Regions from separate parts of the Homo sapiens genome. Here region 2 is linked to region 1. The links come from fine-mapping of genetic effects on gene expression. A gene starts in region 1. The other region holds a variant in brackets. All regions are shown on one strand. Distances are from middle to middle.

What was found. PIP is the estimated chance that this variant, and not a neighbour inherited with it, causes the effect. A credible set is the group of variants that fine-mapping cannot tell apart.
Region 2: its variant is the best candidate, but not a certain one, in a credible set for the expression of ABCF2 in spinal cord (GTEx, PIP 0.67).

Annotation. Positions count from the first base shown.
Region 1 is chr7:151,225,853-151,228,629 of GRCh38, reverse strand. ABCF2 (ATP binding cassette subfamily F member 2) reads left to right here and starts at 1,425. Exons shown (of 15, transcript NM_007189.3): 1 at 1,425-1,467; 2 at 2,130-2,325. The coding sequence starts at 2,172. It overlaps ABCF2-H2BK1 (ABCF2-H2BK1 readthrough), which reads left to right and starts at 1,425. Exons shown (of 17, transcript NR_160983.1): 1 at 1,425-1,467; 2 at 2,130-2,325. RefSeq lists enhancers at 1,249-1,328, 1,439-1,488 and a silencer at 1,589-1,648.
Region 2 is chr7:151,254,695-151,257,471 of GRCh38, reverse strand. It overlaps a transcript of SMARCD3 not described here. Among named protein-coding and RNA genes, the nearest start is that of SMARCD3, 7.4 kb to the right of the region's middle. RefSeq lists enhancers at 337-837, 838-1,338. The variant T/C (reference allele first, on the strand shown) is at 1,568.

The sequences.
Region 1 (2,777 bases):
TGGTTTGATTATAGCTCACTGCAGCCTTGAACTCCTGGGCTGAAATGATCCTCCCACTACGGCCTTCCAAAGTGCTTGGATTACAGGTGTGAGCCACCACACCCGGCTTGTTTACTTTTCACATGTTCCTTCTTTATTATGAGCTCCCTGAGGTCAGGGAGTGACTTTGCACCATTGCAACTCCAGCACATATATCTGAGCCTGACAGATAGTAGGCACTTCGTTGGTGGAGGATATTCTAGGAAAATGTATGTTCAAAGGCATGCAGGTGTAAAATAGCACGCTTAATCTCCGAACTATTTAAGTAGGTAAGTTCTACTGAAGTATGAGTTTGAGAAGAAAAACTAATTCTCATTGTTTGAGTCACGGACTGTGGGCGAAAAGGTGCCACATTTGGAGAATATGCTCAAAGGGAGCAATAGCTTCCTTTGCTGCCCCAAACGTCACTGATGGTGAGGCTTCTGCTGCACAGGAGCCTGGAGAAGTAACAAAGATCACAAAGGGCCTGCCTTGTACTTGAGGCTAAACATTTGGAGTTTACAATGTAGGTAATGTGAAGTCCTTGAGAGATTGTATTTATTTTTAAACCATCCAGCCCAAAATGTCATGTGAGAGATTTTAAACAGTGAGACTCAAAGGGAAAGTAACGGGCCCGGTAGCATGGCTAACTAATAATAAAACAAATCTCAGCCAAGGGGCCTTTTTATCTCGGGGCCCTTTCCACCAAACTTGCATGGCTTCAGTGGAAACCTAACAATGCGGCAGCGGGGAGGCTAAGCGGCCGAGGTTCCAAAACAACGTCTGGCACCTTCTAAAAGTTTAACAATGAACCAGCCTCTAAAATTAAGGTTTAATGAAACCAAGGCGCTTTCTTTCGTGAAGGAATTCCGTTGGCAACATCTTTGCAGCGATGCCCCGCTTTCTGGAACCCCTCCCTGCCCAGCGCCCCCTTCATTTTAGTCCTCCCCTCACGCTCCCACCTCTCCTCTCCCATTGTTTCGATCTACTCCCGCTGAGGCAAGCTGGGAAGTGTAGTTGCACGCCCTGCTGCCTGAGTCGGTTAGGTAGCTCTAAAAACTCGTAACTCCACAACAGCTCAATGGATTTTCGAGAGGTGGGGTAAAGCCTGAAGGCTCAGCCGGTTTATCCAACGAGCAATCTGGGATTTGCAGTTTCCAGCGCCCGAAGTGCGCCCGCTAGCAGAGAGCTCTTGGACTCTAATCCCGCCCCCTCCCCGAGCCTCGCGCATCCTGATGGCGTCACGCGGCCCCGCGAGGTCTGTGGGATACATAGTAGTCCTCAAGGCGGGTCTCACTCTTGGCCGCTGCAACTTGAGGACTACACTTCCAAGGAGGCAGCGCGGCGCGCCGAGAACCACCCGAGGCCGTGATTGGCTGGTGAGCCGGCCGCACGCGGAGGATCCTAAGGAGCAGCTCTGTTGCGACATAGGCCGAGCAGCGAGGCCCAGTGAGTTAGGGGAAGGGGAGCTGTAGGGAGAGGGTCCCCGCCGGTGAGGGGGAAAGAGAATTAGAAGAGGAAGCAGGGACGGGGTTTGGATGGAGGGCTCTGCGAGGGGGAAGATAGGGCTAAGGGAGAGAAGCTGACGGGCGGGGTGGGGGAGGACCCGGGGGTGACGAGCGTGGAGACTCGGAGGGGACTCACGCGGGCGAGGACGAGTGCGTCCCGGCAAGAGGCTGGGCTCGACGGCCGGGTGATGTGGAGAGGGACGATCGAGAAGAGGCCCGAGACGGACGGGAGGAGGAAGCCCGGAAAGTGAGGCGGCTAGCTGAGTGCGGAGCGCCAAGTTGTAGGGAAACCGGAGACGGAGACCTCCGCTGAGGGGCAGAACCTGGTCCCCAGCCGGAGGCCCTGAAAGAAGGAGCGTTTCCAAAGTGAGGCAGTCCGTGGGGGACTGGTGCCTGTGGGAAGAGATGTTAAGATTAGAAGAGCCGCTGAGAATCGGCATTGGTTTGGGATACCCTGACCAAGTTGGAACAGACGAGGCGGGGGCAGGCCAGGGCATCAGAGGCTTGATGTTGATACGAAGATTCCTGAGAGGGATGGAGCAGGGCCCAGGCATTCTTACTAGTAAGTTTAGGGTTTGGGGGTATCTGTTTGCCTTCCTTCAGGCTCCCTGAAACAACAGTAACCTACCCCTGTGGGTCATCATCATGCCCTCCGACCTGGCCAAGAAGAAGGCAGCCAAAAAGAAGGAGGCTGCCAAAGCTCGACAGCGGCCCAGAAAAGGACATGAAGAAAATGGAGATGTTGTCACAGAACCACAGGTGGCAGAGAAGAATGAGGCCAATGGCAGAGAGACCACAGGTGAATTGAGGGAGGGGTGAGTTGGGGATGGTTGCTAAGACTTAATGCATGCCCCAGCCAGAGTTGGAATCTTGATGCTGGGGGTAGTGGAGAATGTATCTGGTGTCATGCAACTTTTCATGATGAATCAAATCAGTAGAGTTGGAATTCGTGCCACCCTGTCATTGCGCAAGGAAGCCGAAGACGAGGTTCTCACATACTCAGTGGCAAGCGGATGTGAGAGTTGCTGAGCTGCCTTGCTGCTCTATTAGATTGTGAGGAGGGGATCAGTTCCCTGCCCCTTTCTCAGTTTCCATTTCTATGCATGGTGACCAATGTGCCAGGTTCTTTGCTACATTATACAATAAGCTTGTCCTCTCACTGGTGTAGTGGCTCTACCTACAAGAGAGTAACTTATGAGTTGATTTATGGGGTTTTTCCTGGGAGAGAGCTCCCTTTCTGTTATTTATATT
Region 2 (2,777 bases), 29 kb before region 1:
GCCTGTAGTCCCAGCTACTCAGGAGGCTGAGGCAGGAGAATCGCTTGAACCCAGGAGGCGGAGTTTGCAGTAGATTAAGAACTGACGGCAGCATTTGCCAATGTGGAGGCTACCGGTGGCCCTGCCAGGAGCATTTCAGTGGAGCAGCGGGAGCTGCATCTGACAGGATTGGGATTCAGGGAGAATGGAGGAGCACAAATGAGACAACTCTTTTCAGAAGTTTTGTTGCTACTGGGCAGCAACCTGTAGGATAAGTAGGGTTAAGAGAGATTGTTTCAGGAGGCCGGGTGCAGGGGCTCACGCCTAAAATGCCAGCAGTTTGGGAGGCTGAGGCGGGAGGATCACTTGAGCCCGGGAGTTTGAGACCAGCCCAAGCAACATAGTGAGATTTTGCCTCTATTTTTTAAAAAGTAATAAAAAATGAAAGAAGAGCGCTTATTCCAATGGGGATGTAACAGTACTTGTGCATGCTGCTGGGGGAACTCCAGGGAAGAGGGGAATGTTGATGAAATGATGGTGTGGGAGAGAATTGCTGGAGCAGTGTCCTTGGTGTGGAGGAGGGACGGAGCTGGCACACGGAGGCACGGCTGGCTGTAGTCGGGAACACAGATAGCTCATCTGGAGGAACGGGATCAGCTGCTGGCAGGCAGAGGGTGTGGTGGGAGGCTCTGGAAGTTCTTCGGAAGCTTCTTTTTTCTCAGTGAAGGGGAAAACGGGCACAAGCTGGGAGTGAGGAGGATGGAGGAGAGGTTGGAAGTCAGAGGAGGGAGAAGCTGCAAAAAACTCCTGTCGGGGTGTGGGAGCGGGCATATTTGTGACTGTGCTGTGAGAAGAGTGGCCTGCCGGGCAGCACGATGCCAGCTGAGCTCGTGCCGAATCCACAATGAGACCGGGTGGGGTGGCTGTGTGTCTTTCTCTGGCCACATTCAGGTGCGTGGTTGCAGGGGAGGAGCTGGTGAAGCTGGATTTACCTCTTAAGAGAGTCAAGAGTGTACACAAGGGGTCAGGTGCAGTGGCTTATGCCTGTAATCCCAGCACTTCAGGAGGCCAAGGTGGGTAGATCACTTGAGGTCAGGAGTTCGAGACCAGCCTGGCCAACATGGTGAAACCCTGTCTCTACTAAAAATACAAAAAGTAGCTAGGCATGGTGGTGTGCACCTGTGGTCCCAGCTATTCAGGAGGCCGAGGCACAAGAATTGCTTGAGCCCAGGAGGCAGAGGTTGCAGTGAGCTGAGATCGCGCCACCTGGGCAACAGGGCGACACTCTGTTTCAAAAATAAAAAAAAAAAAAGCCAGGCGCAGTGGCTCATGCCTGTAATCCCAGCACTTCAGGAGGCCGAGGCAGGCAGATTGTCTGAGGTCAGGAAGTTTGAGACCAGCCTGGGCAACACGGTGAAACCCCGTCTCTACTAAAATACAAAAAATTAGCTGGGTATGGTGGCAGGCACCTGTAGTCCCAGCTACTTGGGAGGCTGAGGCAGGAGAATTGCTTGAACCTGGGAGGCGGAGGTTGCAGTGAGCCGAGATCGCGCCACTGCACTCCAGCCTGAGTGACAGAGCAAGACTC[T/C]GTCTCAAAAAAAAAAAAAAGTACATGCAAGGGAGGTTAAAATGGTCAATTGTGTTATGTGTCACCGTCAAAACAACCAGGAGATTCAATGTGTAAGAGCAAGGGGTAGCTGTGGGGAGGGGTGCAGAGTGGTGAAATGAAGCAGAGGTTCCAGAGGAGTCGCAGGATTTGGAGGTCAGGGAGCTGGACAGGGTGAACTGGAAAGAGGAAAAAGAGGAGACGGTGGTCAGCGAGTAGGGTGCATGGGACTGAAAGTGGGGGGCTGCGGTTGCTGCAGTGATCTAAGAGATGACCTTGGGAGTGCATGGCTGAGGGAACAGGGAGGATCGCTGGAAGAGGAGCTGCCAAGGAATGGAGAGGCCAGAGATGTCTGGAAGAGCATGCAGCAGGCTGGACAGGAGTGGTGCTCCGGAGAGTGACATGAGCCAGGAGCCAGAATCCGCACAAAGGAAGCCTCCCTAGCTGGGGGTAAGATGCAGAGCCAGGGCTCTGGAAACAGCAGTGAGGGGCAATGGGGGGCCATACCCACCCTTAGGCCAGTGGTCGAGCCACTGCTGGAAGGGAGCCTGGCATCTGCTTCTGGAAGGCAAAGAGGATGCTTCCAGAAGAGGTGGAGCATGTTGGAAATGTTCCTTAGGACAGACAACACAGTAGGAGGGTTTCAGGGGCTGGGGAGAGATGGCAACTGTAGGAGGGTCTAGGGCCTTGTGGGGCTCAAAGTGCAGGAGTTGAGGGGGTCTGGGGCTTTCTGTGGTGACTGATGCAATTGGGGATAAAGGGCAGCATGAGATTGAACCTGGTGCCCTCAAGGCCGAGGGCAGGTCGAGGGCTCCCCTGGCCCCGTGGTGCAGAGTGGAAGGTGCAGTGTCAGACCTGCAAGGACAGCCGGGCGACGAGTCCGCGCAGCACTTCCACGGGGGTTTTATTTACACATCCCACTGCCCGCTGCCATTTGATTTAATATTCCCAAAAATTTGTTTAGAAATGCAGATGGACTTTTTGTTAACTATTCACTTCTCTTCACTCCGGTGACACCCAGACCCCAGAATGCAGTGATTGGCAGGAATCCCCCTAAACACCTGTTCAGAGCAGTAGCTGAGGCCCGTTCCTGCCTCACAAGTCCTCAGAAGCTTCCCGAGGTGAGGGGCAGGACGCTGGGCCACTAGGATTGCCCTGACACTGTCATGGGGAGCTATTAGCTGCAAAAGAC